Linked DNA regions of Homo sapiens. The protein of the gene in region 2 purifies or fractionates together with the protein of the main gene of each other region. This does not show direct contact. Each region holds a gene or a part of one and is shown on either strand. Other genes may lie near its edges. The genes, in order: SNTB2, LURAP1L and SNAP29.

Region 1 (3,751 bases), on a different chromosome or scaffold from region 2:
TACTCCTTCTATTAACACTAATTTCCGAGCAATGTCTAGCCCCACCTAGACATGCAATATAAATAAGGTTTATAAATAGGATATTATAAAGGTGGGACACTGGAACTTCACAACTGGTGTACATGAAATCATTTCTGGTAAATCAGTATTTTTCCAAATATTCACAAGCTGATTTATAAGAAAGTGAAAATCCATTGTGCCAAGTTGGACTTCTGGCCTCTCGGTTTGACGATTGGTCCTTCTTCACCAGCAGCCCCCAGCCCTTCCCTTCTGTCCTTCCTCTGCCAGGAATACCCTCCTGACTCATCCCTGCCTGCCTATGTCCATCACTTCTTGGAGACCTGGCTCAAGATTCAGCTTCGGGAAAAAGTCCTCCCTGGCTAATTCCATCTCCACTAACTATTTTCTAACTTTGCATTCCTTTGGCATTTAAGTATAGTTTCACGACGTAATCACCAACTTCATTCCTTTCCTCCCTATAAGTTGTTTTGCATTTTTCTATCATTTCTCCAACTAGAGACCAAGTAGGGACAGCATCTTCTTTTATATTCTTTTCAACACAGCTAGCCATAATCACCAGTGAAAGAAAGCTGACCGCTCAAAAATTTCTGAAGAAAGCAGCTGACTTTTCGTTTATAATTTACAATACTCTATCACCTCCAACATGCATGAGTCCTTAGAGGAGAGGAATTTTATTTTTGCCTTAGTTCAAATTCATCATGAAAGATCCAACTTACAGATCACATACATATAACTTAACGTAAAGAATAATCCTGGTTATTGAAACCTATCTTGTGATTTGCCATTTCAAGTTTCTTACAAAAACCCCAAGAGTCTTGAAGCAGCGCGCCTGTGAGTGGTAGGAAGCTGGCAGCAGACTTGCAAAAGGGGCAAAACTCTAGTTGGCAGTAAATGTTCAAACACGTGAGCCTCCACTGTTAAACAAGGTTCGTTAACCACACAGACTTGCTGTTTCAGCTTTCTGGCTTCAATGAAATGCTATGATCTCCTTTGGTTATTGTTGAGAGCCAATGATGGGTTAAATTCCCATAAATTAACCAGCGCTTTGGTGGTTTGCCCGAGCATACCGCTGGCATCGGTGAAGATGGACTTTTTTTTTTTTTTAATAGACCCGCCCGCCCCGAGGAGCCAGAGGTGAGTGAGTTAAGCGCCAACCCGGCACTTCTCAGCGGGCAAACGGAGACAGACCCACTCGAGCCGTTCGCTCTCCCTCAAGTTCTTAGTGTCAGCTTATCGGGCCGAGGTGGGGCTTCATAGGCAGCTGCTTTTTACTCAATCTCAGCCGAGTCTTCCCTAGGGGCTGCAAGCCACACTTCGGCGGCTGCCCAACTTTTCCTGCAAGAAGCATCCGTTTTTCCACACTGAAAGCTCCAGAAACCCGGGTTTGGAGAGAGACGGGGAGAGAACCGGCTCGCCCCGCCGGCGGGGCAGGAACAAAGTGAGCTCCCGCGAGCCCAGGCCGCCGCGGCCTGCCCACCCTCCCGCCCGGCCCCGCTCACCCTCCAGCAGCACCTCCTTGCCCGCGCGCTTCAGCGCCTGCACGGCCTGGTCGTGGGTGGCCTGGCGCAGGTCGGTGCCGTTCACCGACAGGATGGCGTCGCCCAGCCGCAGCGCCCGGCTCTGGTCGGCAGCCAGCCCGGGGAAGATCTTGGAGATGAGGATCGGCATCCGGTTCTCGCGGCCGCCCTTGATGCTGATGCCCAGGCCGCCCGCCTCTTGCTTCACCACCCGCACCCGGCGCACGGGCGGCGACGCGCCCGCCTCACCCGCGGGGCCCCGAGGCGGCGCCGGCGGGCTCGGGGGCCCCAGGCCGCGGCTTGGGCTCCCGGGCAGCGAGTCGCCCGCGCCGCCGCCGTTTGGGAGGCCGTTGAAGGCGGCGGCCGCGGGTCCCAGAGCGGGCTCCAGCTCGGCCGCGGCGGCGTCGCCCGTCAGGCTCAGGCTCTCCCCGCTCAGCTCGGCCACCACTCGGACCCAGCGCTCCCTCAGGAGCAGCTCCACCAGCCCCGCTTTGGTGGCCCGCGTCCACACCGCCATGGCCGGCCCCGCTCCAGCCGCCGCAGTCGCCGCAGCTACCCTCATTCCAGTCAGGCAGCCTCGGCGCTTCCCTCTTCCCGCCCGGAGGGGCGGGCCCGGCCCCTCCCCCGCACGATTCATTATTCATGAGGCCACGCCTGCCTCTGGAGGGGCGGGGCCGGCGCAGCCGCTTCCGGGAGGTGCAGAAGTTGTCCGATCACTCGCCTCTCGCCGGACGTGGGCAACCCGAATGCGGTGGGACTGCATTTCTCCTCATCCTTCCATTGGCTCCCCACGGACCCCCCAGAAACTCCTGACCTCTACCGTGCAATTCACGGGAGCTGCCCGGGCACGGAAAGCAAAATCAGCTTGGAGAAACACTTCTCAAGCCTGCAAGACCCGGTGGCACGTTCATTCTTGCATTGATTGGTTCGTACCCTGTGTACTGAGCGCTTAGCCCTGTACTCCGGCTCCTTTTGAGGCCCTGTACTTAAGCTCAATAGTACCAACAACAGCTGAGAGTTTGCGGTCTAGTGGGGAAGGAAAATGCAGAACCAACCAACTAGGTGTGATACTATGTGGTTAAGTGACATGCAGAAGACGTCCCCAGAACAGCATAAAAGGAACATTTGGTTAGGCCTGGGGTCAGCTTCACAGAGGTAACAACGGACGGTGAACAGCTCAAGCAAAGGTCCAACAGCATGATCCAAGCCTTTGTCAATGTTTTGTAATCTCGTTTACTTGCCTGTAATTCAAGAGGGAACCATGTCTTCTTAAACCCTGAAGCCACAATTGGCAGGCCTCAAGGATATTTGCAGAATGATGGTGTCTTAGGGTTCTTCAGAGAAACCAACCAATAGGATATATAGAGATATATAAATTTATTATTATTACAAGGGACTGGCCACGAGATTATGGATGCTGAGAAGTCCCACGATCTGCCATCTGCAAACTGCAGGCCCAGGAAAGTTGGTGGTGCACTTCCAATCCAAGCCCAAAGGCCTGAGACCCAGAATCAGTGGTATAAACCTGAGATTGAAAGTCTGGGCCGGGCGCGGTGGCTCAAGCCTTTAATCCCAGCACTTTGAGAGGCTGAGGTGGGCGGATCACCTGAGGTCACGAGTTTGAGACAAGCCTGACCAACATGGAGAAACCCCATCTCTACTAAAAATACAAAAAATTAGCCGGGCGTGGTGGCACATGCCTGTAATCCCAGCTACTTGGGAGGCTGAGGCAGGAGAATTGCTTGAACCTGGGAGGCAGAGATTGCGGTGAGCTGAGATGGCACCATTGCACTCCAGCCTGGGCAACAAGAGCAAAACTCTGCCTCAAAAAAAAAAAAAAAAAAAGAAAGAAAGAAAGAAAGAAAAAGAAAGTCTGGGCCGGGTGCAGTGGCTTACACCTGTAATCCCAGCACTTTGGGAGGCCAAGGCGGTGGATCACCTGGGGTCAAGAGTTATAGACCAGTCTGGCCAACATGGTGAAACCCCGTCTCTACTAAAAATACAAAAAATTAGCCAGGTGTGGTGGCAGGCGCCTGCAATCCCAGCTACTCAGGAGGCTGAGGCAGGAGAATCGCTTGAATCCGGGAGGCAGAGGTTGCAGTGAGCCAAGATTGCACCACTGCACTCCAGCCTGGGCAACAAGAGCAAAACTCCATCTCCAAAAAAAAAAAAAAAGTCTGAGCCACACGCGGTGACTCACGCTTGTAATCCCA
Region 2 (3,651 bases):
TGTGCCTGACTTATTTCACTTGTCACGAAATCCTCCACTTCCATCCATGTTGTTGCAAATGACAGATTCTAATTCTTTTCTTCTGGCTGATTAGTACTCTATTGTGCGTACGTACAACATTTTCTTTATCCGTTTGTCTCTTGATGGACACAGGTTGCTTGTAAATCTTAGCTATTGTGAATAGTGCTGCAATAGACACAGGAGTGAAGATATCTATTTGATATATTGATTTCCTTTCTCCTGAGTATATACCTAGTAGTGGGATTGCTGGATTATATATTAGTTCTAATTTTATTTTTTTAAGGAATCTCGAAACTGTTCTCCATAGTGGCTATGCTAATGTACATTCCCACCAACAGTGTACAAGGGTTCCCTTTTGTCCATATCCTCACCGGCATTAATTATTGTTTGTTGTTTGGATAAAAGCCATTATAACTGGGGTGAGATAATATTTCATTGTAGTTTTGATTTGCATTTCTCTGGTGATCAATTATGTTGAGCACTTTTGAATATACCTGATTGTCATTTGGATGTCTTTTGAGAAATGTCTATTCAGATCTTTTGTCTATTTTTTAATCAGATTATTAGACATTTTTCCTACTGAGTTGTTTGAGCTACTTATGTATTCTGCCAGTTAATTCCTTGTCAGATGGGTAGTTTGCAAATATTTTCTCCCATTTCATGGGTTGTCTCTCCACTTTGTTGGTTGTTTCCTTTGCTGTGCAGAAGTTTTTAACTTGATGTGATCCCATTTTTCCATTTTTGCTTCGGTTGCCTATGCTTATGGGATATTCCTCAAGAAGTCCTTGTCCAGAGCAATGTTATAGAGAGTTTCCCCAATGTCTTCTTTTGGTACTTTTATGTTTTAGATGTAAGTCTTTGATTAGATTTTGTATATGGCAAGAGATAGGGGTCTAGTTTCATTCTTCTGCATATGGATATGTAGTTTTGGCAGTACCATTTATTGAAGAGACTATCTTTTCTCCAGTGTATGTTCTTGGCATCTTTGTGAAAAATGAGTTCACTGTAGGTATGTGAATTTGTTTGTCAGTTCTCCATTTTGTTCCATTGCTCAGTGTGTCTGTTTTTATGCCAGTATCATGCTGTTTTGGTTACTATAACTCTGTAGTATAATTTGAAGTCAGTTTTGTTCTTTTTGCTCTGGATGACTTTGGCTATTCAGGTTCTTTTCTGATCCCATATAAATTTTAGGATCTTTTTTCTATTTCTGTGAGGAATGTTACTGGTATTTTGATAAGGATTACATTGAATCTGTAGATTGCTTTGAGTAGTATGAACATTTAAAAAATGTTGATCTTCCAATCCATGAACATGGAATATCTTTTCATCTTTTTGTGTCTTATTCAATTTCTTGCATCGGTATTTTATAGTATTCATTGTAGAGATCTTTTACTTCTTTAGTTAAATCCTAGGTATTTAATTTTATTTGCAGTTATTTTAAATGGGATTACTTCTTGATTGCTTTTTCAGATTGTTTGCCGTTGGCATATAGAAATGCTACTGATTTTTATGTTAATTTTGTATCCTACAACTTTACTCAACTTATCAGTTCTAATGATTTCTTGGTGGAGTCTTCAGGTTTTTCCATATGTAAGATTATATCATTTGCAAATAAGAATAATTTGACTTTTTTTCTTCCCAATTTGGATGCCCTTTATTTCTTTTTCTTGTCTGATTGCTCTATCTAGGACTTCCAGTACTATGCTGATAAACAGTGATGAAGTGGGCATCCTCCTTATTTCCAGACCTTAGAGGAAAGCCTTTCAGTTTTCCCTCTTTCAGTATGATACCAGCTGTAGGTCTGTTTATATGGCTTTTATTGTGCAGTGGTAGATTCTTTCTATACCCAGTTTTTTGAGTTTTTATCATAAAGAGATGCCAAATTTTATCAAATGCTTTTCCAGTATCAACTGAAATTATCATATGGTTTATTCCTTCATTCTATTGATATGATGTATCACATTGGTGGATTTGCATATGTTGAACAGTCCTTGCATCCCTGGGATAAATTCCACTTGGTCATGATGAATGATTATCTTAATGTGTTGTTGAATTAGGTTCACTATTATTTTGTTTTGGATTTTTGCATCAATGTTTATCAGTGATATTGGCCTATACTTTCTCTTTTTTTGATACGTCTTTGCTTGATTTTGATATCAGGGTAATACTGGCCTAATAGACTGAGTTTAGAAGTATTCTCTCCTCTGTTTTTTGGAATAGTTTGGGTAGGATTGTTCTTCTTTAAATGTTTGGTAAAATTCAGCAATGAAGCTATGAGGTCCTGGGCTTTTTTTTTTTTTTTAATAATTTTGCATGCTTCATTCTTTTTTATTCTTTTATTTTGTCTCCCTCACTGTATATTTTCAATTAGCATGTCTTCAAGCTCACTAATTCTTTCTTCTCCTTGATCAGTTCTGTTGAGAGACTCGAATGCATTCTTCAGTATGTCAATTCAATTGTTTAGCTCCAGAATTTCAGCTTGATTTTTAAAAATTATTTCAATCTAATTTACATTTCATTTTACATTTTCATTATGGATAGGATTCTGAATTCTTTCTCTCTGTTATCTTGATTTGTTTAGCTTCCCAAACCAGCTATTTTGAGTTATCTGTCTGAGAGGTCACATATCTCTGTCACTCTGGGATTGGTTACTGGTGCCCTTATTTAGTTCATTTGGTGAGGTCATGTTTTCCTAAATGATCTTGATGCTTTTGAGTGTTCATCAATGTCTGGGTGTTGACAAGTGAGGTATTTATTGTAGTCTTCATAGTCTGGGCTTGCTTGTACCTGCCCTTCTTGGGAAGGCTTTAAAGAAGTATTTAAAGAAAATTGAGTGTTCAGATCTAAGTATTTGCCTATTGCAGCCATATCTGCCCAAGCCCAATAATAGTATGACTCTTGCAGACTAACAGAGGTAGCACTTTGGTGGTGTGGGGTACTATATGACAGAATTCCCTGGATTACCAAATAGAGACTCTTGTTCTCTTACTTTACCCCAAACAAACAAGTTTCTCTCTGTGCTGAGCTTCCTAGAATTGGAGGAGGGGTGACACGAGCACCTCTGTGGCCACCACTACTGCAACTGTGCTGAGTCAGACCTAAAGCCAACACAGTACTTGATGTCACCCGAGGCCTGTGGCAACTATTGCCTGGTCACCACTGATGTTTATTTAAGGCCCAAGGGCTCTTTAGTCAGCAGGTGGTGAATCATTCTAAACTTGTATTTTTCCCTTCAAGGTGGTGAGTTCCCTTCTGGCCCAGGGTGGGTGTAGAAATGCTGTCTGGGAGGGAGGGTCTGGAGTCGGGAACTTTAGGAATCTAGAATCTACTTGGTGCTTTATTTTACTTGGTAAAGCTACTTGGTAGCTGAGCTGATACCCAAATTCTGAGTCAAAGTCTTTTTTACTCTCCTCTCTTATTTCCTCAAGCAGAAGGAGTTTCTCCTCATGGCCACCACTGCCCTAGGCCCATGGCAAGTACTGCCTGGCTACCACTGATGTTTACTCAAGGCCCAAGGGCTCTTTTTCACCTTATGGTGAATCTTGCCAGGCCTGGTTATCTCCCTTCAGGGCAGCGGGTTCCCTTCTGGCCCAGGGTGTGTCTAGAAACGTCTGTTGTCCGGGAGCTAGG
Region 3 (3,651 bases), on a different chromosome or scaffold from region 2:
TCCTTGGGACAATGTGGCAGCTGTGAGTGGATGTGCCCAGGAAGGAGAAGCCAGAAGCTCGAACAACCAGCCCATCCTCAGAAGGCATCCTGTTACAGCCAACAAGCCAGCAAATTGGCCTGGGATCAATGGTCTAATTCTTTTTTTTTTTTGAGACAGGGTCTCACTTTGTCACCCAGGCTGGAATACAGTGGCATGACCTCAGCTCACTGCAGCCTTGACCTCCCTGGTTCAAGAGATCCTCCTACCTCAGCCTTCTGAGTAGCTGGAACTACAGGCATGCACCGCCATGCCCAGGTAATTTTTGTATTTTTTGTAGAGCCAGGGTTTTACCACATTCCCCAGGCTGATCTTGAACTCCTGGGTTCAAGGGATCCACCTGCCTCAGCCTCCCCAAGTGCTAGGATTACAGGTGTGAGCCACCACACCTGGCCATCAATGGTCAAATTCAATCATTGATAGTTTACCAAAAATTAATTAAAAATAAATCCCGAACAGACCTAGCGGTGAGTATGTGGTCCAATGCCATTTCTCCACCAGACTCCCTCCCACCTGCTAGACACAGCCTGACATGTGTTGGGATGCATTTTCTGGTCACAGGACAGGCATTGCAACCAAGGCACACAGCTCAATGCATTCTTTCCACCCAACTCTCTCCTCCTTTTTCAGGCAATCTTCTGTTCCCTCCCTCCTTCCTTTCCTTCCCCAGGTCACTTATTCATTTGGCAACTATTTTGGGAGCGCCAATAACGCTTAAGGACATTGTGCTGAGAAGCGTGGGGGTAGAAAGTTGAGCAAGAGATGGGTAAGAGACTGCTCCTCTTCCACTGCTGACATTTACAAATTTGAGGAATTACTTAATCTAGCAGCTGCTTGTCCCCATCCATCAACTTTTGCTAAGAACTCTGGCTGCATCAGTATCACCACACGCTGCCTCAGAGGGGTGACTTTGGTCTGTACGGCCCCTCATTTGGAGTGGGCTGCTCCAAGACCAGAATCCCTGAGAATGAGGATATCACCTTTTGGCAATGTATCTACTCTAAGTTCCGGGGACACCTTGATGGCCTCTGCTCCTGGGCCAGGAGGGGTGTCCTCCTCTCTCCCACCTCTGAATGGAATGCCCAGTGTGGGTGACTGTTGTGTGCTGGAAAGACACAGAGATGGGTGGGCCCCTGCACGAGACGGTGTGGAGGATGTGCTGGCGGTGGCTGCTGAGTGCATCACGTTTGAACTCTCAAACTCTGTCCCTTTCCATTGATGTTACTGTGCCAGCCGTTCCAACCCTGGTCTAATGTTTGTTGCTGGACTCCCCTGAACCGAGATCTCGGGCCCCAGAAAACCTCAGTGGAGTTAAGTTCAGCTACAAGAGGGGAAGCAGAGTGTCCTGGGCAGGTGAGTCTCCTCCACTGGAGTGATGAAAAGGTGTACAAAAACCATGTCCAAGTAGGATGCAAATAGACTCACCAAAAGGTGTAAACAACCTCAATGCTCATCATTAGGGGACAGGCTGCATAAATAGAAGTCATTTGTTCAATGGAATACAACACAGCCAAAAAGAAAGCCCAGCTCATTACATACTAGTGTGGAACAAACTCCATTCTATTAAGCACATGCAGACCAGAATGTATACAATACTTCACTTAAAAAAAAAAACCCATTTTTATCCACGGCATTATCTCCCCAAAACACTGAAGGAGGGAAAGTGCCTGGCTGCCTTAGGGGCAGAGGGATGATAGGGAGGGAAGTGGGAGAAGACTACACCCTTTTGTATGTTTTGAAATTTTGAACCATGTGATTGGAATCTCTCTTCATAAAAATTAAACCTTAGGAAAAAAAAAAGAAGAAATCATGCTTACTAAACAGGGAAAGAGACGAGTGGCTTACAAGTCTCCCTGTAGTTCTACAAAGCGCCTACCAGGTCGGCCTGGGGAAACCGCCCTGCTCCCACTACTTCTCCTCTGTTCTTTTGTGGTCATAGCCTGTGGCCTGAGCCTTTGTGAGAAACAATCCTTGCCAGGTTTCACAGTAGGAGAAGGGCAGCTCTCTTTGCTAGAGGTGACTTAACTAAGCCATTTTCCTGCCAAGCTGGGACTGAATTATAATCTTCCCAACCTAATATAATTTGTAAAGTCCTCATCTTTGACATAAATCTGTCATGTGTTGGCATGTTTCACAGTGCTGGGGTAACCAGGCACCTAAGTTGGGTGATTAGCAGGGTATGCTGGAATTTGCTGGAAGCCACACTGTGCACTGAGGGTTGGAAGAGCTCATACTCCTCTGTTCCCATCCCAACACCAAAGGGAATGAAAGAGTGATTAGAGTGATTCAAAGACAGCTTGGAGCCTGTAATCCAGCACTGGGAGGCCAAGGTGTGCAGATCATCTGAGCTCAGGAATTCGAGACTAGCCTGGGTAACATGGCGAAAGCCCATCTCCACCAAAAATACCAAAAATTAGTCGAGTGTGGTGGCGTGCACCTGTAGTCTTGGCTACTTGGGAGGCTGTGGCAGGAGGATCACTTGCACCTGGAGGCAGAGGCTGCAGTGAGCCAAGATTGCACCACGGCACTCTAGCCTGGTTGACAGAGTGAGACCCCCATCTCAAAAAACCTCCCCCAAAACAAAACACAAAAACAAAGACAGCTTGGAGAACACTGGGTGTGGTGGAGATGTAGGTCATCCCTGACTCCCAGGGCTTCTCATAATTGAGAACTGACCCAATCCTGGAAAATTCCAACATGTTGTCTCACTGACAAGAGCACCTGTCACCTGCCCAGTCATGACCACACTGTACTTCTCACAGCAATGCCTGGCCTGGCCAAGCCTGATATGCCTGAAGTGCCACTCTGCCTCAGCTCTCACTGTCCCCACTGCATAGAAAGACCTTTGGGGGCAGCACGGGGCATGTCATCACAATCTATATCAAACTCACCACTATTACATTTTTGCCTCTCCTGCGCTATGAGACCAGAACTTTCCCTATGACCTCCAAGGGCTCCTAAGCTACCTCCTCCATCCCCTGTCCTCTAACACACCCAGTCTATCATGTCCCTCCTCTGGACCCAGGAGCTCTGTTGCTGGGCCAGTGCATTTGCATATTTTCCTGTCTTCCCTAAGAACATCCCTCATTCTCACTCCTCTTGTGTAAACCTCAGCCTTAAAAGCTAGATTCAAGTTTATCCTCTGCCACAATGCCCTACTTTGAATCATTGATTCCCTACTTCATTTGTTCTCAGTTTACAAAGATGTCTCCTTAAATAGTTGTTAGTTGAATTCCTTGGGCTTGAGATCCTCAATCATGTGACCCATTCACCAGGGCCCTAAAACCTCAGGCAATCCTCTCAAATCTAAGCCAAGACTTCCCATTTAGAATGGAACATAGGAATCCAGTAGGTATGAGATGTAAGAACTACAGGCAAAACCTCCCTAACAAGGTTAGGACCGGGCGCAGTGGCTCACATCTGTAATCCCAGCACTTTGGGAGGCTGAGGTGGGCAGATCACCTAAGGTCAGGCGTTTGAGACCAGCCTGCCCAACATGGCGAAACCTGTCTCTACTAAAAATACAAAAATCAGAGGCCAGGTGTGGTCGCTCACGCCTGTAATCCCAACACTTTGGGAGGCCAAGGCAGGTGGATCATGAGGTCAGGAGTT

The links.
Region 1: the proteins of LURAP1L (region 2) and SNTB2 purify together in Homo sapiens (affinity purification with mass spectrometry; 3 studies listed by BioGRID and IntAct, with this or other methods). This does not show direct contact.
Region 3: the proteins of LURAP1L (region 2) and SNAP29 purify together in Homo sapiens (affinity purification with mass spectrometry; 2 studies listed by BioGRID and IntAct, with this or other methods). This does not show direct contact.

Annotation. Positions count from the first base shown.
Region 1 is NC_000016.10:69,185,516-69,189,266, reverse strand, and holds the start of SNTB2 (beta-2-syntrophin), read right to left. Parts: upstream 2,104-3,751; 5' UTR 2,101-2,103; coding exon 1,521-2,100; intron 1-1,520. UniProt on the Homo sapiens protein: Adapter protein that binds to and probably organizes the subcellular localization of a variety of membrane proteins. May link various receptors to the actin cytoskeleton and the dystrophin glycoprotein complex.
Region 2 is NC_000009.12:12,781,520-12,785,170, forward strand, and holds part of LURAP1L (leucine rich adaptor protein 1-like), read left to right. Parts: intron 1-3,651.
Region 3 is NC_000022.11:20,861,856-20,865,506, reverse strand, and holds part of SNAP29 (synaptosomal-associated protein 29), read right to left. Parts: intron 1-3,651. UniProt on the Homo sapiens protein: SNAREs, soluble N-ethylmaleimide-sensitive factor-attachment protein receptors, are essential proteins for fusion of cellular membranes.